7 linked regions of the Homo sapiens genome follow. The protein of the gene in region 1 purifies or fractionates together with the protein of each later gene. This does not show direct contact. Each region holds a gene or a part of one and is shown in the gene's direction. Other genes may lie near its edges. The genes, in order: PPEF1, CTPS1, ACSL3, P4HA1, NTPCR, SCO1 and AKAP8.

What was found.
Region 2: the proteins of PPEF1 (region 1) and CTPS1 purify together in Homo sapiens (affinity purification with mass spectrometry; one large-scale study listed by BioGRID and IntAct). This does not show direct contact.
Region 3: the proteins of PPEF1 (region 1) and ACSL3 purify together in Homo sapiens (affinity purification with mass spectrometry; one large-scale study listed by BioGRID and IntAct). This does not show direct contact.
Region 4: the proteins of PPEF1 (region 1) and P4HA1 purify together in Homo sapiens (affinity purification with mass spectrometry; one large-scale study listed by BioGRID and IntAct). This does not show direct contact.
Region 5: the proteins of PPEF1 (region 1) and NTPCR purify together in Homo sapiens (affinity purification with mass spectrometry; one large-scale study listed by BioGRID and IntAct). This does not show direct contact.
Region 6: the proteins of PPEF1 (region 1) and SCO1 purify together in Homo sapiens (affinity purification with mass spectrometry; one large-scale study listed by BioGRID and IntAct). This does not show direct contact.
Region 7: the proteins of PPEF1 (region 1) and AKAP8 purify together in Homo sapiens (affinity purification with mass spectrometry; one large-scale study listed by BioGRID and IntAct). This does not show direct contact.

What each region holds. Positions count from the first base shown.
Region 1 is NC_000023.11:18,801,645-18,805,144, forward strand, and holds part of PPEF1 (serine/threonine-protein phosphatase with EF-hands 1), read left to right. Parts: intron 1-2,247; coding exon 2,248-2,433; intron 2,434-3,500. UniProt on the Homo sapiens protein: May have a role in the recovery or adaptation response of photoreceptors. May have a role in development.
Region 2 is NC_000001.11:40,989,696-40,993,195, forward strand, and holds part of CTPS1 (CTP synthase 1), read left to right. Parts: intron 1-1,469; coding exon 1,470-1,553; intron 1,554-2,069; coding exon 2,070-2,150; intron 2,151-3,500. UniProt on the Homo sapiens protein: This enzyme is involved in the de novo synthesis of CTP, a precursor of DNA, RNA and phospholipids. Catalyzes the ATP-dependent amination of UTP to CTP with either L-glutamine or ammonia as a source of nitrogen.
Region 3 is NC_000002.12:222,923,536-222,927,035, forward strand, and holds part of ACSL3 (fatty acid CoA ligase Acsl3), read left to right. Parts: intron 1-920; coding exon 921-1,060; intron 1,061-3,481; coding exon 3,482-3,500. UniProt on the Homo sapiens protein: Acyl-CoA synthetases (ACSL) activates long-chain fatty acids for both synthesis of cellular lipids, and degradation via beta-oxidation.
Region 4 is NC_000010.11:73,086,867-73,090,366, reverse strand, and holds part of P4HA1 (prolyl 4-hydroxylase subunit alpha-1 isoform 2 precursor), read left to right. Parts: intron 1-3,500. UniProt on the Homo sapiens protein: Catalyzes the post-translational formation of 4-hydroxyproline in -Xaa-Pro-Gly- sequences in collagens and other proteins.
Region 5 is NC_000001.11:232,981,611-232,984,382, forward strand, and holds the end of NTPCR (cancer-related nucleoside-triphosphatase), read left to right. Parts: 3' UTR 1-2,272; downstream 2,273-2,772. Other genes in the region: PCNX2 (pecanex-like protein 2), read right to left, coding at 2,694-2,772. UniProt on the Homo sapiens protein: Has nucleotide phosphatase activity towards ATP, GTP, CTP, TTP and UTP. Hydrolyzes nucleoside diphosphates with lower efficiency.
Region 6 is NC_000017.11:10,684,034-10,687,533, reverse strand, and holds part of SCO1 (protein SCO1 homolog, mitochondrial), read left to right. Parts: intron 1-691; coding exon 692-807; intron 808-3,500. UniProt on the Homo sapiens protein: Copper metallochaperone essential for the maturation of cytochrome c oxidase subunit II (MT-CO2/COX2). Not required for the synthesis of MT-CO2/COX2 but plays a crucial role in stabilizing MT-CO2/COX2 during its subsequent maturation.
Region 7 is NC_000019.10:15,366,288-15,369,787, reverse strand, and holds part of AKAP8 (A-kinase anchor protein 8), read left to right. Parts: intron 1-1,465; coding exon 1,466-1,553; intron 1,554-3,500. UniProt on the Homo sapiens protein: Anchoring protein that mediates the subcellular compartmentation of cAMP-dependent protein kinase (PKA type II).

The sequences.
Region 1 (3,500 bases):
AGAGTTTTTCTCACCGCTTTAAGCTGTTATAGAAGTTTCAATAAAGAAACATTACAGGCCGGGTGCAGTGGCTCACACCTGTAATCCCAACACCTTGGGAGGCCGAGGTGGGTCGATCACCTGAGGTCAGGGGTTCGAGATCAGCCTGGCCAACACGGTAAAACCCTGTCTCTACCAAAAATACCAAAAATTAGCCAGGTGTTGTGGCGGGCCCTTGTAATCCCAGCTACTCAGGAGGCTGAGGCAGGAGAACCACTTGAACCCAGGAGGCGGAGTTTGCAGTGAGCCGAGATCATGCCACTGTACTCCAGCCTGGGTGACAGAGCGAGACTCCATCACAAAAAAAAAAAAAAGAAAAGAAAAGAAACATTACAGATAGATGAGAGCCACAAAGACGGAGCCTCCAATCTTTATGAAAAATATTATTTTGTTTTATTTTGAGATGGTGTCTTGCTCTGTTGCCGAGGCCACAGTGCAGTGGCATGAACATGGCTCACTGCAGCCTCAACCTCCTGGGCTCAGGGATCTTCTCACTTCAGCCTCCCAAGTAGCTGGGAACACATTCCGGCACCACCACACCTGGCTAGTTTTTATTTTTTAAGTTTTTGTAGAGATGGGGTTTTGCCATGTTTACCCAGGCTGCTCTTGAATTCCTGGACCCAAGCATTCCTCCTGACTCAGCCTCCCAAAGTGCTGGGATTACAGGCATAAGCCACTGTGCCTGGCAGAAAAATGATTTTAAAAATTTGGATCTTTAGTCCTGGACATCATGTAACCTGCATTTGCCTCTCCTGCGCCCCAAAGGAAATGTTATAATAATACAACACTTGTGGATTTAGAACACATTATGGAAACCAGTCATTTACTAAATGTATTGCGGAAACTGAGAATGTACTTACCATCGAGGGGGGAAAAGTGAAGGAGATGCTTTAGGAGACACCCTCAGATAAACAGGTTTCCACATTTGTGTTGGGAAACAGCAAGGGCTTCCTCAGGCTATGTGCTCAACAGGACAAAAACCTGGCCCAGAGCCACAGCAGGAGACCTACTTTATGTCTTTGAACATATTAAGACACACCTAATGTGTGGGCATTGTGGGGAGCTAATTTCTTCCCTGAATGTGACAATGAAGTTCTTTTAAGAGAAAAGAACCTTGTAGATTCAACAATTGTCAAACAATTGTGATGGAATTTTTAAAGCCAAAAAAACAAAAAAAAAATGGCAAGGCCTGATTCTTGGTTATTGTTATTGCTGTATTGGTTATTCATGGAGGAGATGAATATGAAACAATATTCTTTTTTCTTTTTCTTTTTTGCGGAGACCAGCTCAGTAGGGGAGACCCTAACCCAGCAGCGCTAGAGGAATTAAAGACACACACAGAAATATAGAGGTGTGAAGTGGGAAATCAGGGGTCTCACAACCTTCAGAGCTGAGAGCCCCAAACACAGATTTACCCACGTATTTATTAACAGCAAGCCAGTCATTAGCATTGTTTCTATAGATATTAAATTAACTAAAAGTATCCCTTATGGGAAACGAAGGGATGGGCCAAATTAAAGGAATAGGTTGGGCTTGTTAACTGCAGCAGGAGCATGTCCCTAAGGCACAGATCGCTCATGCTGTTGTTTGTGGCTTAAGAATGCCTTTCAGCGGTTTTCCGCCCTGGGCAGGCCAGGTGTTCCTTGCCTTCATTCCCGTAAACCCACAACCTTCCAGCGTGGGCGTTATGGCCATCATGAACATGTCACAGTGCTGCAGAGATTTTGTTTATGGCTAGTTTTGGGGCCAGTTTATGGCCAGATTTTAGGGGGGCCTGCTCCCAACAATTTTGAGACAGGGTCTCTGTCTGTCACCCAGGCTGGAGTGCAGTGGAGTGATCATGGCTCACTGCAGCCTCAACCTCTCAGGCTCAAGTGATCCTCCCATCTCAGCCTCCCTAGTAGCTGAGACTATAGGCATGCACCACCATGCCTGGCTAATTTTTGTATTTTTTGCAGAGTTGAGGTCTCACCATGTTGCCCAGGCTGGGCTTGAACTCCTGGCCTCAAGCACTCCTCCCACCTCAGCCACCCAAAGTGCTGGGATCACAGGCATGAGCCACCACGCCAGGCCTGAAACAATTTTCAAGGAAGAATGAGAAGTGGTCTTTGGGATACCTTGGGTTAATATTTCTGACAAATAAGTTGGAATCTAGAAAGATATACTCTCACTTGTAAGTTACAGCGAAATCTGGTTTGTTGTTCCAAGATTATTGATATTCTGTGGAGTGATCCCAGAGGCAAAAATGGCTGTTTTCCAAATACGTGCCGAGGAGGGGGCTGCTATTTTGGACCAGATGTTACTTCCAAGATTCTTAATAAATACCAGTTGAAGATGCTCATCAGGTCTCATGAATGTAAGCCCGAAGGGTATGAAATCTGTCATGATGGGAAGGTAAGCTAAAATTGTTGGTGACATTCCCATAAACATCCTTCCCCTAAGCACAGTCTTTTCTTCACAGAGCATGTCTGGCCTAGAAGCCCATGAGAAGATGTCTTCTCTAGTACCAAACAGAAACCAGAGAAGGCGAGCTTCATCTAGGTTGTTTGAAGGGGCCTCACTGTCCCTTATCCTAAAAGATATTTGGTTTATTTCCCTGATCTTCCCTAATCCCAGAAACAGAAATTCTTTTTTTTTTTTTGAGATGGAGTCTCACTCTGCCACCCAGGTTGGAGTGCAGTGGTGTGATCTCAGCTCACTGCAACCTCCGCCTCCCGGGTTCAAGTGATTCTCGTGCCTCAGCCACCCAAGTAGCTGGGATTACAGGTGTGCGCCACCACACCCAGCTAATTTTTGTATTTTTAGTAGAGACAGGGTTTCACCATGTTAGCCAGACTGGTCTCAAACTCCTGACCTCAGGTGATCCGCCTGCCTCGGCTTCCCAAAGTGCTGGGATTACAGTCGTGAGCCACCGCGCCTGGCCCCAGAAACAGAAATTCTGATACATGGCACTAAGTAGACACACAGAAAGGCTTGGTTCTTATAAGGCAACTGTCCCATACAGTGGGGTTGAGAATGTCCTTTTCCTCACAGAGCGCATAAAAGGCAGCAGTGAATCCAGTTTGCTCTTGCACTTTTTACATGTTCCCTGTGCAGGGCCCAAAACACAAAACACACTTCCCTTCAGCTCCCTGAGTAGGTGACCTCCAGCAAGTTGCTCACTGTAGTCAGTTTAGCTGCAGCCACTAAAACGGAGTGTGTTGTGTTCCTTCAGTGGTGTCTGATCAAAGGCTAAAAGAGGTGAGGACCGAGGAGCTGGTTTCTTGTCCCAAGTTGTTCTGGGATGCACCGTTTCTTTTTTTTTTCTTTTTTCTTTTTTTTGAGACAGAGTCTCGCTGTGTTGTCCAGGCTGGAGTGCAGTGGTGCAATCTCGGCTTACTGCAACCTCCGCCTCCCGAGTTCAAGTGATTCTCTTGCCTCATGCTCCCGAGAAGCTGGGATTACAGGCGCCCGCCACTACG
Region 2 (3,500 bases), on another chromosome or scaffold:
AAAAAAACACCAAAAAACCAAAAATGACCTGTCATTACTATTCTTAGAAAATTAGAAGGAGATAAGCTATATCCGTTAGGTAAGAACTGGATGCTATAAGAAAGAAACATTGAGAGAACAGAAAAGAATCCTTGGAAATTAAAAATTAGATAGCAGAAATGAAAAAGTTAAGAGAAAGTAAGTTGAGGAAATACCCAAGGAAGTACAGCAAAAAGACCAAGAGATAGAAAATAGGAGAGAAAAGGTAAAATTAGAGGACTGGCTCAGAAGTTCTAATGTCCAAATAATAGGAGTTCCAAAAAATAAGAACACAGAAATGGAGGTATAATCTGAACCCCAGGGGTCAGCAAATGATGGCCTATGGGCCACATGAACCTACCCCCCCGTATTTGGAAATCAAGTTTATGGAAATACAGCTGTGTCTGCTTGTTTATGTGCTGTCTGTGGCTGCTTTTGCTCTAGAACAGTAGAGTTGAATACTTGTGGCAGAGACTGTGTGGCCCACAAAACCTAAAATACTTACTATCAGGGCCTTTACAGAAAAAATTTTCTGACCCCTTATCTGAACAATTCAAGGAAATTTCTAGACATCAGTTTCTGGGTTGAAAGGGCCCCCTTGGTGCCTATCATATTGGATGACAGATGACCTACACCAAGGCATATTATTGTGAAGGTTCAGACTAATGGGGCAGAAGTTCTAAAAGGCTCTGAAGAGAAAAATCAAGAATCATTGTGCCACTGGACCCCTTAGCAACAATACTGGAAGCTAAAAGACATTGATGCTATTTCATTAAAAATTCTAGTGGAGGCTGAGCATGGTGGCTCACACCTGTTATCTCAGCAGTTTGGGAGGCAGAGGTGGGAGGACTGCTTGAGCCTATGAGTTTGAGACCAGCCTGGGCAATGTGACAAGAGCCTGTCTCGATTTAAAAAAAAAGAAAAAGTCCAACAGAAAATGATTTCCATCCTACAAGTCCATGTGTAACGTGTATCTGTTAAGTGTGAGAGAAGAATAAAGATGATTTAGTACAGAAAGGAAAAGTGTGGCACATGGTTTGGGAACAGTATTTAAATACTTAAAAAGTATGTAAACCCAAAAGAGGACTGCAGGCACAGGAAAGTGTCTAATGGGGGCAGGATCCTCATTTAACAGGGAAATCAATAGAAAATGCCTCCAAGTAAATGTGGAGAAGTAGCACACCAGCAAGATCAGTTAAGAGTTGAAGAGCGGTTGTTTCTAGGGATTGGAAAGGGGAGAGTGGGTGAGGGCCGATACTGCTTACAAGCTCGGTTAGAACCATTTGATTCTAAAATGCATGCATGTGTAACTTTGACAAACATAAAAGCTAAATTACACAAGTGACCAAATGATCTATTTCCTTATTAAAAGAGGTTCAAGGAAAAGTCATACTTGAAAATTCCTTATCAGAGGGAAACTAACTTTTTTTTTTTTTTCTTTTGTGAAATAGCCAAGTTCAACAGGGGAACAGAAGACTAAACCTACCCAGAATAGTGTTCGGGAACTTAGAGGACTTGGGCTTTCCCCAGATCTGGTAAGATTTCCTGATAGCTGGTTGCAGTGTAATCTTTTATGTCTAGTTAAGATCACTCTATCATGACAGACAAGACCTTTGTCTTGTTGGGTTGCTTTTGATAATTGATGATGGAGAAAATAGGATTAGTTCTTTGAACCGGGCTGTAGTTTGCAAGATGTTCATACTTAGAGCGTGTTAGGTCTTGTACTCCCCAGACCTTATTTTTCCTCTCAGTCTTTTTACTCTCATTTTTACTCCTACTTGGGAACACTAATGGAGGAAAATCCCAGAGCTCTTGTAGTTCATTAATGTATTCATTTGTACTGCCATTCTCTTATGTTTCTCCAGTTTGGCGTTTACGGATTTTAGCTTTGAAACGAGTCATAATATTTTTATGGATTATGTGCCTGGTGCTGAGAGTTAACGTTTTCGTTCATCTTAACAATGTGATGTCTGTTTTAATTTCAGTCAGGAGAAACCCCTACTTCTGTCATTTTTTCCTTCTGTCTAAGCCATCTTGTTCTCTACTGCTAGGTTGTATGCAGGTGCTCAAATCCACTTGACACATCAGTGAAGGAGAAAATATCAATGTTCTGCCATGTTGAGCCTGAACAAGTGAGTAGAAATTCCCATCTCTAATAAGTTGTTTTTTGCTTCTAATTGTCCTAAAGCCTCTTGATCAGTTTCGTGAGGCTTGTTATTTTCTAATTAGAGATAGTGGGCTGTTCCAGAAGAACCCATTGCCATCGGCCATTCCCTGCCTCTCCTGGTTCCCCAAACAACACCTGTGTCCCTCCTGCCTCTTCTCCGTGCCTCGTTGTACTTTGTGCTTCAGCCGGGTGGAGTATCTTTCGGTTCCCCTAGTACCCTCCACTCTCCCTATGATTGTACTTTTTCACTGGCTAATTTCTGTTAAGAACCCATGTCCCCCTCTTCCTGTTGGCTTGGCAGTCTCCTACTCACTCTCATCCTTCAGGTTCTAGCGAAGACATAGTGTTGTCTGAGAAGCTTTAACTGCCAAACCTCCTGGCCCTTGGCCTTCAGGGTTAACTGCGTCCTTCACTGGGCTCCTGTGTGGTGTCGCATGTATGCTGCTGATGGGCCCATCTTTCTGGTGTGTGTGTGTGTGTACATGTGTGGTGTGTATCTCCCTTCACAGACTCTAAGCTTCTGGAGGGCAAGGGCCACCTCATTCAACTTTCTGTTTCTGGTGCCTGGTGTCTAGGGTGTTGTAGGCTGTCACAGAGATCTTAGTGTTTTTGTTACTGTACCTATGATGCAGGAAATCCAAAATTTGGAACCTGTAATGTATCTAAGTGTGGTGCTTAGTATGGAAATTCTAGTGGTGATACATTGAGCATGTAGCTTTGGCCAGGTTTTAGATATTTCTGGCCTAGCAAGTGAAGGAAATTCAATTCTGTAGCAGAATAGGTTGTCATTAAAATTGTTCAATTTTTTTTTTTTTTTTTTTTTTAATTGAGACAGAGTCTCGCTGTGTCGCCCAGGCTGGAGTGCAGTGGCGCGATCTTTTTGGCTCACTGTGACCTCCACCTCCCAGGTTCAAGCGATTCTCCTACCTCAGCTTCCCGAGTAGCTTGGATTACAGGTGTGCACCACCACTCCTGGCTAATTTTTGTATTTTTAGTAGAGATGGGGTTTCATTATGTTGGCCAGGCTGGTCTCAAAGTCCTGACCTCAGGTGATCCACCTGCCTCAGCCTCCCAAAGTGCTGGGATTACAGGTGTGAGGGCGCCCGGCCTTAAAAATATTCACTATTAAAAATGTAACAAGTATTTCCACATTTAAGTTTAAGTTTCAGATTTTTTGCTTTTTTTTTGAGATGGAGTTTTCACTTTTTCATCCAGGCTGGAGTGAAGTGGAGCAATCTCAGCTCAGTGGAACCTCCACCTGCTGGGTTCAAGTGATTCTCCTGCCTCAGCCTCCCGAATAGCTGGGATTATAGGC
Region 3 (3,500 bases), on another chromosome or scaffold:
GAAAGTCTGGCCTAAACACCAAACAAAGTGACAGAGAAGCTGGTGCAGCTTTGAATGACTTAAGAGGGGCTGTTCATCCTTACATAATATAGGGGCCTGGGAATAAGACAAGGGAAATGGGGCAGCAGTGATTTTCTGGCTCCTTATAACATAGGCTGAGTTTGTTTGGAAATGATGGGAATTATTGTCGGGTACCTAAATGCTTACGTCAAGAATAATTACATAGTTACTTCAAAGTCAAATATAAATAATCAGTAGTTTCTTTCTATAATTATAGTTTCTTTAGTATCCAACTTAAATTCTTAGTTCACTTAAAAATGACGTACAATTTAAAGTTGTGGAGGAAACATTATTTTAAGTCATTAAAGTATACTTCACAGTAATGGACCTAGCAAGCAAAATGCAGCACAGACAAGGAAAACTTCCTGGTGCAATATCGAAAGTCAAATAGCCAAACAAAAACTCCCAAACGTTGCATGGTCTTTTTGTGAGCAAAGAATGTGGTACTGTATATTTTTATAAGATAAAGTTAGGACATTTTGAAAAACCATTTCAGACGGTTGTTCGTTTATTTTGTGAGTAGGTTTTAGTTCAGAATTAGTAAGATAAGCAAAGCAATATAAAGAATATCTTACAATTTATATGAGTATCTAGATATATTTCTGCTTTTAAAAATTATTTTTGTGGAAACTTTATTTTTAAACTAATTGTGGTTCGATTTTAAAAGTTTGATCTTGATAGGATACATCTTTTTGAAAAATTCACAAAAGGTTTTTTCCTTCTTGCTGAATCACATCCACAGTTGAAGAGTACTTCTTTTAAAATGCCTTAATATTGCTAGAAATGTTAATCTAATGCTAAGTGAATATGTAAGGCAGCTGTTATTATTAACTATGTTAAACTCATTTTTATACATTTAGGAAATCATGGATCGGATCTACAAAAATGTCATGAATAAAGTCAGTGAAATGAGTAGTTTTCAACGTAATCTGTTTATTCTGGCCTATAATTACAAAATGGAACAGATTTCAAAAGGACGTAATACTCCACTGTGCGACAGGTAAGTAAAGACTCTCTACCTCCTTCTTTCTCCTCTTGATAATTTAATCATTTAGTTCACATTAATAGCCCAATTAATTGAGATAGTTATAAGAAAGAAATATATTTCATAAAGTCAAGAGAACTCTTTAAAAAAAATCCATCCCAGGCCAGGCGCGGTGGCTCATGCCTGTAATCCCAGCACTTTGGGAGGCCGAGGCAGGTGGATCATGAGGTCAGGAGATCGAGACCATCCTGGCTAACACAGTGAAACCCCGTCTCTACTAAAAACACAAAAAGAAATTAGCGGGGCTTGGTGGCGGGCGCCTGTAATCCCAGCTACTCAGGAGGCTGAGGCAGGAGAATGGTGCGAACCCAGGAGGCGGAGCTTGCAGTGAGCCAAGATTGCGCCACTGCACGATCTGTCTGCCTGGGCGACAGAGCGAGAATCCGTCTCAAAAAAAAAAAAAAAATCCATCCTGGCTGAACACGGTGGCTCACTCCTGTAATCCCAGTGCTTTGGGAGGCCAAGGCGGGCAGATCACCTGAGGTCAGGAATTCAAGACCAGCCTGGCCAACGTGACAAAACCACATCTCTACTAAAATTACAAAAATTAGCCAGAGTGGTGGCATGTGCCTGTAGTCTCAGCTGTTAGGGAGGCTGAAGCAGGAGAATTGCTTGAACTCCCTCGGGAGGCAGAGGTTGCAGTGAGCCGAGATCGTGCCACTGCACTCCAGCCTGGGTGACAGAGTGCGAGACTCTTGTCTCAAAAAAAAAAAAAAAAAAAAAATCCATCTTGACATGGGAGGATTGCTTGAGGCCAGGAAATCAAGACCAGCCTGGGCAACATAGCAAGATTCCTTCTCTGCTTAGCTGGGCATGGTGTCATATATCTGTAATCCCAGCTACTTCAGGGACTGAAGTAGGAGGATTGTTTGGGCCCCCAGTGGGAGGATTATTTGGGCCTGGGAGCAATGACTGCACCACTGCACACCACCCTGGGTGAAAGTGAGACTCTGTCTCTTTAAAAGACAAGCAAACAAAAAACCTTTGTAATAGTATGAGCAGTTTAAAAAACCTGCAATGTCATTAAAAGTGTGTTTTCACTTAAGATTTTGCTATTTGTGAGTTTATATTTTCTGTGAACACTTAGGGAGTTTTAATTATTTTGAGAAATAGTTTCTCTTTTGCTTTTATATTTATTTCAGTATGAATATAATTAAATGTTTTGTATTTAAAGCTTTAAATGATCAGTTTTGTTCCAGCTTGTATTTGTGTAGTGTTAATAGAGTACATAGATTTATGATTTGATCATAAAATAGCTTAGAAGTTAGAAAATGGAAGTATGACATTCAAAGTATTTTTTATGGTAATATTAATATAGTTTTCAGATGCTTCACATAATTTAGAACTTTGTAAGTTTTTTTCCTGCCTTACGTTAGTTATTTCTTCAGTGAGTTGTAAAGTCGGCCCTCTGTATCAACAGGTTCCACATCTTTAGATTCAACCAACCGTGGATCAAAAGTATTCTGGGGAAAAAACAATAAAATATAACAGTGGAAAAGAAAATACAGTATAACAACTATTTACAATGAATTTATATTGTATTAGGTATTATAAGTAATCTAGAGATAATTTAAAGTATTTTGGAGGATGTGTGTAGGCTTTATGCAAATACTATGCCGTTTTATATAAGGGACTTAGGCATCTGAGGGTTTTGGTATCCAGAGGACTGGATGCCAAGGGATAACTGTAAAAGCTGATTTGAAAAGTCTGTTAATACCATTTTTAAAAAATTGTCACCGTGTAGTCTTCACCTTTTGCAAAGATTTTTTTTTTTAAGTACTACCTCTCCTTTTTGATCAAGGCAGTATGCAATCTTTGTATTAGTGTATTTTCAGAAACATCAATTAGATGTTTAACTTGTTTCCTTTTTTAAATGCTTCACAGATAATTTACTAGATTATTTTTAACAAACAATTCAAAGCTTGAATTAGTGAAACTTCAAAAACAGATTGTGGTATACAAATTATACACATTTCTAATAAAGTACATTAAAGCAAAAATTAATTTGATTTTAATACATTTCATAAAGATGATAGAATTGTTCAGTATTAATATATGATAAATATTTTATGTAAATAATGATATAAAAGTGGCCATAAGCAAGGGTTTTCCTGTCACTATACAAAACTAAACCTGACAATTCAAATTCGAATATCACTTGAAAAGCTCTTAAGAGGAAATAATAAATTCTTTACCTTGTTGAACTTCAAAAAATTAACATTTGGGGCTCAAGAGACTCTCCAAATTGGCTGTGTGACCTTGGATAAGTAACTTAATCTCAAAATCTCTCATATCAAAACTGGGGGATTAGTTTAAGTGATTTGGAAAATCCCATTCAGTTTTAAAATCCTGTGGTTCTCTAATTTTTTTCTTTAGCTTTGTTTTCCGGAAAGTT
Region 4 (3,500 bases), on another chromosome or scaffold:
AGCCCAGGAGTTCCAGACCAGCCTGGGCGACATAGAAAGACTTCATCTCTACACAAAATAAAATAACATTAGCTGGGTGTGATGGTGCCTGCCTGTAATCCTAGCTACTTGGGAGGCCGAGGCAGGAGGATTGCTTGAGCTGGGGAGGTTGAGTCTTCAATGAACTGTGATTGTGCTACTGTACTCCAGCCTGGTGACCGAAATGAGTCTCTGTCTCAAAAAAGAGTATACTTGGCCAGGCGCAGTGGCTCACACCTGTAATCCCAACACTCTGGGGGGCCGAGGCAGGAGGACTGCTTGAGCCCAGAAGTTCAAGACCAGCCTGCGCAACATGGTAAAACCCTGTCTCTACAAAAAAATTAAAAAGCCAGGTGTGGTGTTGTGTGCCTGCAGTCCCCGCTACTTGGGAGACTGAGGTGGGAGACTCACCCAAAGCCTGGAGATTAAGGCTGCGGTGAGCCAAGATCACGCTACTGCACTCTAGCCGGGGCATCGGCAGTATCCTTATGACTTTTTGTAATCCCTTCTTTTGCTCCTTACTACCCTCTCTGTATCCCTAGGAAACCATTGTTTCCTTTCTGTTGCTTAAGATTAGTTTTTATTTTCTAGAATTTTATAAAAATGGAATTGTATATACGCTTTTTTTTTTTTTTTTTAGCACGGGGAATCTCCTTACACTCAGCATAATTTGAGATTCATCCATGTTGTTATGTGTTCATAGTTTTTTATTGTTGAATAGTATTTTATTTTATGAATATACCATGATTTTTTTTAACCCATTTACCCTTTGATGGACATTTGGATTGTTTTCACTTTTTGACTATTATGAATAAAGCTGCTATGAGCATTCATGTACAAGTTGTTGGAGAGAGATATGCTTTCTTTTCTCTTATATTAATGCCTAGGAGTGCAATAGCTAGATGTGATAGGGAAATATTTTTTCCCAGTTGTTGGCTTGTCTTCATTCTTTAAACAGTGTGCTTCAAAGAGCAGTTTCTATTCACAGACAACATGTCTGTGACTCTTCAAAAAAGCTCTAGTGAATAGGTTAATTCAGCAGAGTTGTAGCTTAGAAGGTCAATATACAACAGTAAATTGTATTTCTATATACTAATAATGAACAATTAGAAACTAAAGTGAAAAATTCCCATCTCATTAGCACTAAAAACCATGAAATACTTAAGTATTAACTTTTCAAATGGTGTGTAATATTTGTATGTTGAAAATTATGAAACACTGATTATATCATGTTCATGGATTAGAAGACTCAGTATTAAGATACCTACTCTTCTCAAACTGATTTATAGATTCAGCACATTTCTAGTCCAAATCTCAGAGGATTTCTTATAGAAATTAATGAGCCGATTCTAAAATTAATATGGAAAACCAAAGGAACTAGAAAAGCTAAAACAATTTTGAAAAAGAATAACAAAGTTGGAAGATTCATACTACCTGATTTCAACTTAGTTTAAAGCTGCAATAACCAAGACTGTGGTATTGGAGAAAAGATAGACATACAGATCAATTGAACAAAATAGAGAATTTAGTCACACAAAAATTGTCAATTCATTTTGAAAAAGTTTAAGGGCAGTTCAACAGAGGATAGTCTGGAACAGTTGAATATTCATATGCAAAGAAAAAACAATCTTTGTTTTATTTGGGCACCAAGTATCCACTGTTGGACACTGGGCAGTCCCTTGCCCAGGAATTTATGTGAATATTGGGACAAGTGACATGAATCCACCAGTGGATATGAAATAAAGTTTAATCACACAGTAAACAGCAAAAGGACTCCTCAAGGTCAAGGACTTAGGTTTAGTCCAGGATGAAGCAAGAGTGAAACAGGGTGGGTGGCTTTGGTTTTTATTGACCAGAAGGTGGAACTTGTTTGATGGTCCCCATGTGTGGTATTTACATGGTTTCAACTTCACACCAGTACCAAGGGAGGGAATACTGGTCCCCAAGTGTGGTATTTATATGGTTTCAACTTTACACCAATACCAAGGGAGGGAGTACCTGGGCTTTCTTACAGACTTACCCAGATGTGGGACAAAAGGGAGAGAGGTGTGGGACCTGAAGGCAATCTGCACTCAAACATCAAAATGAAATCTTTTTATTAGAGCCTCAATCTGTACTTGACACTGTATGCAAAAATTAGTTCAAAATGGTTCGTAGGCCGGGTCTGGTCGCACACGTTTGTAATCCCAGCATTTTGGGAGGTTGAGGCAGGAGGATTGCTTGAGCCCAGGAGTTTGAGACTAGCCTTGGCAAGAGTGAGACCCGTTTCTATTTTAAAAAATGTTCATAGATTGTGAAGTAAAATGTACAGCTATAAAATATTTGAAAGAAAACATAGGACAAAAATATTTTTGACCATGGGTCAGGCAGAGATTTCTTGGACATGATGCCAAGAACATGATTCATAAATGAACAAACTGATAAATTAGACTTCATCAAAATTAAGAAATTCTGCTCTTCCAAACACACTGTTGAGAGAATAAAAAGACTTCACAGACTGGGAGAAAATATTCCCCATCACATATCTGACAAAAAATAGACTGTATAAGGAACTCAAAGCTGGGCATGGTGGCTCACGTCTGTAATCCCAGCACTTTGGGAGGCCAAGACTGGAGGATTGCTTGAAAATCCAGGAGTTTGAGACCAGCTTGGGCAACATAGCAAGACCCCATCTCTATTAAAAAAAGTAAACAACCTAATTAAAAAGAGCAAAAGATTTGAGTAGACACTATGCAGGAAGGTGTATGAACAGCAGATAAACACCCCAAAAGGTGTTAAACATAGGCCAGGCATGGTGGGTCATGCCTGTAATCCCAGCACTTTGGGAAGCTGAGGTGGGTGGACCATCTGAGGTCAGGAGTTCAAGACTAGCCCGGCCAACATAGCGAAACCGTCTCTACTAAAAATACAAAATTGGTCAGGTGTGGTGGCACGTGCCTGTAATCCCAGCTACCTAGGAGGCTGAGACACGAGAATCACTTGAACCCAGGAGGTGGAGGTTGCAGTGAGACAAGATTGTGCCACTGCATTCCAGCCTGGGCGACAGAGTGAGACTCTGTCTCAAAAAAAAAAAAAAAAAATAAAGGCATTAAACATCATTAGTAATTATGGAATTGCAAATTAAACCCATAATGAGATAGTACTATATGTCTATTGTGAAAATTAAGATATTAAGAGAAACTAAGGAAAAAACGGCAATACAAAATGCTGGTAAGAATGGGAGCAATGGAAACTTTCATCCTTTGCTGTTGGAAGGGCAAATAGTGTAGCTACTTTGGAGAAACGTTTGGCAGTTTTTTATGAAGGTAAATATATACTTGTCATATGACCCAACATTCCCGCTCCTAGGTATTTACCCAAGTGAAATGAGAACTTAGGTTGATTTCCTCTTTTTTTTTTTTTTTTTTTTTTTTTTGAGATGCACTCTCACTCTTTTACCCAGGCTGGAGTGCAGTGACACAATCTCGGCTCACTGCAACCTC
Region 5 (2,772 bases), on another chromosome or scaffold:
AATCAATAATGCCAAATTGGCCACATGATTTATATAAAACCAAGTGCTATGGTTTTAATATTATCTTTAGAGGAGAAACCATTTTGATCTGTGTCCAAATAACTCTTTTTTTTTTTTTTTTTTTTGAGACAGAGTCTCACTCTGTCGCTTGAGCTGGAGTGCAGTGGTGCTATCTCGGCTCACTGTAACCTCCGCCTCCTGGGTTCAAGCGATTCTCCTGCCTCAACCTCCTGAGTAGCTGGGATTACAGGCACCCGCCACCACGCCCAGCTAATTTTTTGTATTTTTAGTAGAGACGGGGTTTCACCATGTTGGCCAAGCTGGTCTCGAACTCCTGACCTCATGATTTGCCTGCCTCAGCCTACAAAAGTGCTGGGATTACAGGCGTGAGCCACCGTGCCCAGCCCCCAAATAACTCTTGAACTGGAAAATAACTCTTTAGCTATATACTGGCAGAATATTTGAACAACTCTAGCAAGAAATGTCAGTTTAGGGATGCCTCCTCTAAATGGGGGCTTAGAATATAACATTTTGCAGGAAGTCCTTTCTGATACATAGCTGACTAGATGAAGGACCAGATTAACAAGTTCATGAGTTGTAAATATAAAAGTTGTGTACCACGATAAAAAAGAAAAAGAAGTATGGCTGCACTGTTGATGGCTGGTCAAACAGCCCCCAAGAATCCTGGGGTGACTCCAATACTGCCACCTTTTCTCTGTGGGTGCAGTTGCCTGCGGATGTGTGTGCACATCTGTGCCTCGGTATGCACACTCGAGATGCCCGCTCTCATAGACGGTGCAGAGCGTCACTGCATTCCTATCTGATTAATGTGACCTTAGTGTTGTAGATACACTGTGTCACTTTCATCCTCCCTCCTCCCCACAAAAGATGCCACGAGAACTCGTGAACTGTGATAAGCAATGAACAGAATAACTGTTGAAGAAGCACCTCATGAACCTCCCCAGAGAAACGGGATGGAGGAGCACCCAGGGTGCTCTTGCTCTCTTGCCTGCGCTGCCATTTCCTTCCAGCCTGGGTTTCTAGCTCTTTGGGGAGATTCCCCGTTTTGTGGAATGCTTTCTGTGTTTCCTACTTCTGGATGCCTAAGGAGTGGCCAGTCATACTCCTGGCTGACCACTGCCAGGCACCGTGGTTTTCCTCACTGAACTCAAGGAGTCACCCTCCGTGGGGAGGCCACACTCACAGCTCCAGGCCTGCCATTTAGCCCTTGGGGCTTGGCTGTAAAGTTGCCCAAGAGGATTACAGGAGCTGCCAGCCAAGTTTAATTTGGCCACCTTAGAGAACTGCAGCAAGGCCCTATCAGCTTCCCATTAGACAAACAACTGCATTTAAATTAAATAAAGTTTGCACCTCTAGGGAGTGCTGACCTGAAAATAAGAACCTTCTGTCTGTGATTATAGAGTACACTTGCTTTTATTAATTGCTGATTCTTAGTTTACAAAAAAAAAAATTAGAAAAGCATTACCATTTACTTTCCAAGGGGCAAGAGATTCTCTACAATACCCTTCCCCCAACCCTCTCCTCAAATTTCCAAATCCTAAATACTTTGAAGAAATTTGTGTGACTGTTTAAAATTGAGTATTTCCTTCTAACTATTGTCTTTTGAAAAGGGATGGTTCACCAGGCCAGTGATACTCTATGGACTGCATTTTGGGACCTCTACCCCAGCAAGGATACAGGTTCCTGGGGTCTTGAAGATGGGAAAAGTTGTCTCAGAATTTACCCAAATGTCGTTCTCACCATAAAAGATATACTTGTAGAAATGAGAAGCTTCAGTATAACTCAAAACACTGGACGCAGCAATAACTATAAACATTTTAATTTCAAAAACAAAGGTGTGTGCGATGTTGTGTGCACAGTAAGGGTTGCGGGGCTTGGAGAACAAGCACGCGTCCCTGTGAAGCCCGCAGGGTGCTGGCGGCCCACCAATCGCCTGGACTACAGTGAGGAGCATTGTGTGACTCCGCGGTGGATTTCCATGCACCGAATGGACTCAGTTTCTAAACTCACATCCTAACGTATCCTGGCTTTTCACAGAATACTGGAGACATGACTGCATGCATGATCACGGTTCTTGTTGTGAAGCTGCCACCATGTTACGCTTAACAGCTGCATAAATATTATAAAGAAATAGGGTTTTCTTGACACTTAGATTTAACCTTAATGCATCTGCCCAGCTGATGGTATCAGACGTGCTGCTGTTCATTTCTTTTTCATGGTAACAGTAATGTATAAAGTGCCGATGATGTAACATGCAGTTGTCTTATTTTCATCAGGGCATTTGTTTCATGGCTCTGTTGAGTTGTTTTAAGTTAGTGAATGGCTTTTGAGATTTCAGATTCTGGAACATGTGTGGTGCTGTCCGCGGTGTGCCGCTCTGGGCAGCGCTGTGCCTGGCCAGGGAGGTGTGGTGTGGCTTCTTTGTTGCTTTTTTTTGTTTCCCCATCATGTGAGGTTTTTTTGTTGTTGTTGTTTGATTTTTTTTTTTTTTTTTTTTTTTTTTTCAAAAACCTGAGATCAGTTCTGTGTTCTGGAACAGCTCTCCTTTTCCACAGGAGGAGTCCCTCATGGATCGCGGTATTGGTTGGTTGTGGTGATTTGGGGAGCACGAGGGAGAGCAATGCAGGTGGGAGGTGTGGGGGAGCCAGCCTCCCCGCCCGGCCGCACGCCCGTCACTGCTCGTCTGACACACTTTGCTGCGAGGCCGTGTCGTCCAGGCCCATGTCCTCCTGGCTTGCTCTCCTGCAGACA
Region 6 (3,500 bases), on another chromosome or scaffold:
ACCTTTAGAAAAAGGAACTGCTGTTAAATGTTGGGCTGTCATTTCAGTAGTTTGATGAATCCAGTTGTTTTAAGTGACCTCTACCGGTTCACTTACATGAATTCCAAAAACTTAATAGCAGATACACGCTGTGAATGATTTGCCCTTATTTCAGAACTTTGTTAAGATTGCGTTTTGGGGATGACTAGTATTAATTAACCAGTTTTTTTAAATCAGAAGTAAAGAGTAGAACTTGATACCAGTGTTGAAATTATTTGCAGGAAAATAAGACACAGGTATTTTGACCTGATATGAACTTAGTTATGAAGCAAATTTTTTTCCCCATATGATGCCATGAAAAGTTATAGTATTTAATTTATGATAATAATTTTAAGCTTTAGTATATCTGAGAACTACATGTGACTACTCCTTAAAAATCAATTTAAAATGTGATACAAGTGATTAGAAAATATTCCCTCCAGGTCTTTACTAGATAGTCATAAAAAGATTTGACTTATATATTACAAAGGAGAATTTTCATTTGTTCTTTGTGAATTTCTTCTCCTTTTCCTTTGAATCGTGAAGAAATGTTTGGAGACTCACAGGAAGAAAGTGGCAGTAGAGCTGCTTTACAACTGATACATTTTTTGAAGTAGAGATGGTTGTTTTACTGGCTTCTCATTTTTCACTGTCTCTCTCATTTTTTATTTAGAATTTTCTCCCAAACTGGTTGGCTTGACTGGCACGAGAGAAGAGGTCGATCAAGTGGCCAGAGCATACAGAGTGTATTACAGCCCTGGCCCCAAGGACGAAGATGAAGACTACATAGTGAGTAAATGTTCCAGTTTTAACCCATGGACCAGCTCCCAGATCCCAAATAGTCATAAGGCTTTCAATGACTGACTAGCTTCTGAGAAGAGAGAATACCTAAGATTATTGCAAAGTCCTTAGGAATTTTTTTTTTTTTTTTTTTGAGATGGAGTCTCATTCTGTCATCCAGGCTGGAGTGCAGTGGCACAATCTTCGCTCACTGCAACCTCCGCCTCCCAGATTCAAGCAATTCTCCTATGTCAGCCTCCCGAGTAGCTGGGATTACAGGTGCGCGCCACCACACCTGGCTACTTTTTTATATTTTTTGGTAGAGACGGGGTTTCACCACGTTGGCCAGGCTGGTCTCGAACTCCTGACCTTACCCGCCTCAGCCTCCCAAAGTACTGGGATTACAGACGTGAGCCACCGCATCCAGCCTCCTTAGGAATTTTGAATATTTGAAAGGATAATAGAAGCATGTTTTTTACTTTTTATTTATTTTCGAGACGGAGTCTCACTCCGTCAGCCAGGCTGGAGTGCAGTGGTGCGATCTTGGCTCACTTCGACCTCCGCCTCCCGGATTCAAGCAATTCTCCTCCCTCAGCCTCTCGCGTAGCTGGGATTACAGGCATGTGCTCCCACGCCTGGCTAGTTTTTGTATTTTTAGTAGAGAAGGAGTTTTGCCATGTTGGCCAGGCGAGGCCAGGGGGTCTCGAATTCCTGACCTCAGGTGGTCTGCCCTGCCCACCTCAGCCTCCCAAAGTGCTGGGATTACAGGCCTGAGCCACTGCGCCCAGCCAGAAGCAGTTTTTTAAAAGATGATTGTTTGATTTATATTCACTGTTCTCATAATTCAATTGCCTGTTTTTCTCTTATAGTGGCATATAGGATTTTAGGGCAGTTTAAAACCAGATACTTGGGTGCCATGTTGGAAATAAAGAGAAGCCATCATTTGGAACAACACTTATTTTAAAAAGATTGTGTTGGTTCTCACTGTGTCCCCAGTAGAGGTATCAGAAATTGCTCTTCTGGAGAACCAGTTTTAGGCCATGGAGAACTGCATTTTTAGGTTGAATGAGAATTCTGAAAAGCAAAAGATGAAAGGTTTATTTGCCCATTGACTATATGCCTTGGACAGTTAGGCGTTAAATATGTGCTTTTTAATGATAAGGAACAGAAATTCTGTTGTACTTGTGTAGCTCTTAAATTAACTATCTTCATATTCATCAGCACTGCCCCAGAAGCCTTAAGGTCATGCCCAAGTTACTGTGTTTCTTTTCTTGTCAGTGGTTTCACAGTGAAGCACCAAAAGGCATTAGCACCACCACTATCCACCAATTTTCCTCTCAATTTGGACATTTTTCTCCTATCATATGAAGAGTCGGCGTTGTATTTTAGCATTATTTCAGTATTTTTCTTAGTTGTCATACTCTGTTTTTTCTATAATATTGTTTGGGCAGAGTAATCCTAAGAGCCTTTCTAGCTGTGAAGCTGTCTTTGTAGAAAGAAAGATGGCCAAGACCCTGAGTCACTGATCCAGCAGCTCCCCATGGCCCATCCCAAGAGTTGAGATGCAGAGGGGATGGGATGTCTCACTGCAGTGCTTTGTCTCAACAGCCAACTATGATTTCTTTGTCCCTTTGAACCTGGAACGTGTGTGCCCCTGGAGCCTACAGCCTGAATTAAAAGCAAGGTTCTGGCCTGTTTGCCTTAATTAAGCCTACACAGTAATCCTGTCTTCCAGATGTGGTGCCTCGTAGAATTAGGGAAACTTGGATTCCTTGGAGTAAAAGATGAGAAAAATGAGCACTTTTCTTTAAGCCTTAATTGTAAGGAAAGTAGAGGGACCCTCCTCTGTTTTCCTCTTGCTGCTTCTCTAGCAGAATGAGAGAAGAGCAGAGAGCCACAGTGGCCAAAAGAGGAAACCATAGGAAAAGGACTTTCCGGACTTCTGTCTTTATAGAGAGTTGTATTAACTGGTTTTGAGTTTATCCGATGATGACAGCAGGAATAGATGAGCTCATCAGTCTGATTTCCAGCATTAAATGAGTTATATTAAATTGTTTAAATGTATACAGTCCTAAACTAGGTAACACTCCATAGTCTTGATGCTTAGAACTCATAACTCAGAGTCAGAAAGTCAAATCAGAAAGCAGTTGTACAAATAAACCCAAACAGCCTGCAAAACTTAAATTGAAAACATTCAGTTACATTGACAAGAGATTTTGCTGAAACCAAAGTGCTGCTCAGGGCAAGAAGGGAGGGGGTTTTGGTCAGACTGCTATCACATACCCAACTCTACTCAACTGCCCCTCTGCATTTTCTATTTAAAATACTTTGAAACCTTTAATCGTGTAGCCTGCCTTGCCTGGTTAGTGTTGATTTGGCAAGAATGTATCATATTCATGTCTGCCTGTAACAGCAGTGGGCAGCTAGGTGCCAGTGAGATCATGGAGCAAACACAAGCCTGGGCACTGAAATTTATACTCACAACACAGATAATCCAGAATATGGATATTAATGTTTTTAATTACAAATGAAAACAAAAATATGTAAGTCTTATGGAAACTTCTTGGACCTTGTAGAATGTATCTTTGGCCCCATTTTGAGAAATACTGGCCTACTGCCATAAGAATTTGACTTTTGATGAGATTCGATGAGGAATTCATGCTGTACATTTGCTAAATCATCCAATAGGGGGAGACATTCTT
Region 7 (3,500 bases), on another chromosome or scaffold:
AGTGTTTTCTCTGGGGCTTCCTTTTGTCCAGTTCCTTCAGTCGCCTGCCCTGGGCTGTGCTGTGGGCCTCTGTGGTGGGGATACTGGCAGCTGCACTGCACATTGCTTCGTGCCTGCGAGTGTGTGACAGCAGACACCTGCGGGGTCGGGAGCACCCAGGCCCACTGGGTCTTTGAGAGGCGGGCGCCCTTCAGCAGGTCTCTTCATGTCCAATGCAGGAGACCAGAGGGTCTGCAGCAACAGCAGAGCAGGCTTAAATCCCTCATGGCAGAGCGGCCTGAGGTGCCGCGGCCTGGAGCTCACCCTGAAGCCACTCGTTTCTTTACCTGTCCTGTGGGTCTTTCCGTAGCTGGTTACCCCAAGGATCATAGGCTGGCTCCTCAGTGGCCCTGCTCCCATCCATTCTGAAGGCCCTTGGCTTAGATGTTCCTCCTGTTCAGGCTTTGCCAGCCCTCTGCGGTCCTCCCCCCCGCGACCCGCAGCAGTCCTGTCCATAGCACGGGGCGCCCCGAGCGCTTAGCGGCACAATGCTAAAGCAAAGGTGACATGTCTGTTGCGCGCAGGTCCTGCTACCTACCCGGGATGACTTTGCTATTAAACAGCAGTCATAGTTTCAGGCAGTGACCTCTTGCCAAAAATCCCACACGCCCTTTTGAGAGGCTTCTGAGCAGCGCACGCCGGTCGCCATCTTCGTGGGACAGTCTCGGGACTGGCATCAGGGGTAGGGGTTACAGTTCAGATGCTTCTCCAACCTTTTTTCAGCGTCCGTCCCTGGCCTCATGCTGGGATGATGGCCGCGTGGCTCTCCGAGGAGCTCCTCTGCTGGCCCCGGGGGACGGACGGGAGGACCAATTGGTCTCTTCCCAAATTTTTTTCTAGGATTGCTTCCCACGCAGCCCTGGGAAAGCCCTAGATTGACGGTTTTTGTGAGTGGAAGATAGAGGTCGGGCCAGCAAGGACTGTCAGACCTGCTGAGGCCCTAGTTCAGACGGGGCCGCCAGGACGCTCGTCACAGTCCACCTAGAGGTGGGATAGAGGGCGGCGGAGCAGCTGCTTCACTTCCTGAGGCCTTCAGCTGCCGCCTCTTCATCCGGGGAGAATTGGCTTCTCCTGTGATATTGGGAGAAGACCCCATCGCAGGGCATGAGATTGGACAAGCAGAATGGGGAGGACAGAGGGAGCAGGGGGCTGTGGTGCACATGGGGTGGGCAGGCTGTGTCCCTAGCCCATCCTGGCCGCCTCAGGCCATGTGGGGAGTTTGGTGACTACTCCGGGCTCTCACTCCAGGCCCGTGTCCACCAGGAGTCTCTGACAGTGCCTTGGGGCATCCTGGACCCTGCCGCGTGGTGCAGGCAGTGGCAGGGCACAGGGTGCGGTGGCCAAGCTGCAGCCCCCCGACCAGGCCCTGGAGCTCAGCTCCTTTGCAGGCCACTCAGAGCGTCTCGAAGGGACTTGTCTGTTACAGGAGAGAAGGAGGACGAGGACGAGGATGTGAAGAAGAGAAGGGAAAAGCAAAGGAGAAGAGACAGGACGCGGGACCGTGCAGCCGACAGGTGAGGCGCGGGCACACGACCCCACAGGAGGAGGTGGACTCGTGCGGTGGAGGCGCTGCCGAGCTCACCTGTCCTCGCTCCACAATGCTGGGGGCCTGGTGGCCTGACTCCTCTGGCCAAACCAGTGGGAGGCAAAACAGTAAACAATTGGGAGTGCAGAAAAGACCATCACTCGTGCTCCCAGCACACGAGCTACCTGTCTTCTAGGATGGCTGGGACGTTGCTTTGGTGGTTAGGTTTCTGTTCTTGCTTTAGAGGATTGGTGTTTGACTCCTGTGTCTCTATTCCTCTGGAATCCCAGCCTTGCTGGTGGGTCTGTGTGGTCCATAACTGCTCAGCAGCGGGCTCTGTTACTCTCCTGCAGGCCTGAGGGGCATCCCTGCCCCCTAGCCTGGTGTCTGGCATCTCAGACACTGTCCTGTGTTCACCTTATCCAAATCCAGACCACCCCTGGAGTTTGACACAGCTAGGAGACAGGTAGAGAGATGATCCTACCATCAAGATTTTGTCCCACAATAGAAAAGGATTGCAAAAATGTTGAGCCCAAAGGATGTCATTGTGAGCACACCATGTGCCTGCCTCTCCCTGCCAGGAGTTAAGTGGCTTCTGACTAGAAACTGAAATCACCAGTGATCATGTGATGCTGGGGAATCCTTGACCTTAAGGTTCACATGGGACAGTGATTTTCTTTTTGTTTGTTTGTTTCTGAGATGGAGTCTTGCTCTGTCGCCCAGGCTGGAGTGCAATAGCATAATCTCGGCTCACTATAACCTCTGCCTCCTAGGTTCAAGCGGTTCTCCTGCCTCAGCCTCCCGAGTAGCTGGGATTACAGGCGCCTGACACCACGCCTGGCTAATTTTTGTATTTTTAGTAGAGGTCGGGATTCACCGTGTTGGCAAGGCTGGTCTTAAACTCCTGATCTTGTGATCTGCCCGCCTTGGCCTCCCAAAGTGCTGGTATTACAAGCGTGAGCCACTGCGCCCAGTCTGGGCAGTGATTGTCGTGTTCAAAGAAATGCTTAGTAAAAGGGGCCAGATGCCGTGGCTCACACATGTAATTCCAGCACTTTGGAAGGCTGAGCTGGCGGATCGCTTGAGGCCGGGAGTTCAAGACCAGCCTGGTCAATATGGTGAAACCCATCTCTACTAAAATTACAAAAATTAGCCAGGCATGGTGGCAGGTGCCTGTAATCTCAGCTACTCGGGAGGCTGAGGCAGGAGAATCACTTAAACTGGGGAGGTGGACTTTGTAGTGAGCCAAGGTTGCACCACTGCACTCCAGCCTGGGCGACAGAGCAAGACTCTGTCTCAAAAAGAAAAAGAAACGGGCTGGGGGCAGTGGCTCACGCCTGTAATCCCACCACTTTGGGAGGCCAAGGCAGGCGGATCACCTGAGGTTGGGAGTTCGAGACCAGCCTGACCAACATGGAGAAACCCAGTCTCTACTAAAAATACAAAATTCGTCCGGCATGGTGGCGCATGCCTGTATTCCCCGCTGCTCGGGAGGCTGAGGCAGGAGAATTGCTTGAACCCAGGAGGTGGAGGTTGCAGTGAGCCAAGATCACACCACTGCATTCCAGCCTGGGCAACAAGAGCGAAACTCTATCTCAAATAAAAACTCCATCTCAGTGAGCCGAGATTGTGCTACTGCACTCCAGCGTGGGCGACGGAGCAAGACTCCATCTCAGGAACAAAAAAAAAAAAAGAAAATCACTGTTCCATGTGAACCTTAAATCAAGGATTCAAAAAAAAAAGAGAGAAATGCTTAGCAAAACGAAGCCAGGAACCAAACGCAGAACTGTTTCTTCTTAAGTGGTACAGGAACATTGAAACCCTTGTTATTTTAAACAGATAAATGGATAGAGTAGATGACTTTTCATGTCACATGGAAACTGAGATGACATTTTCTTTTTAATTATTTTTAAACTTAAATAATCTAATAAAGAGA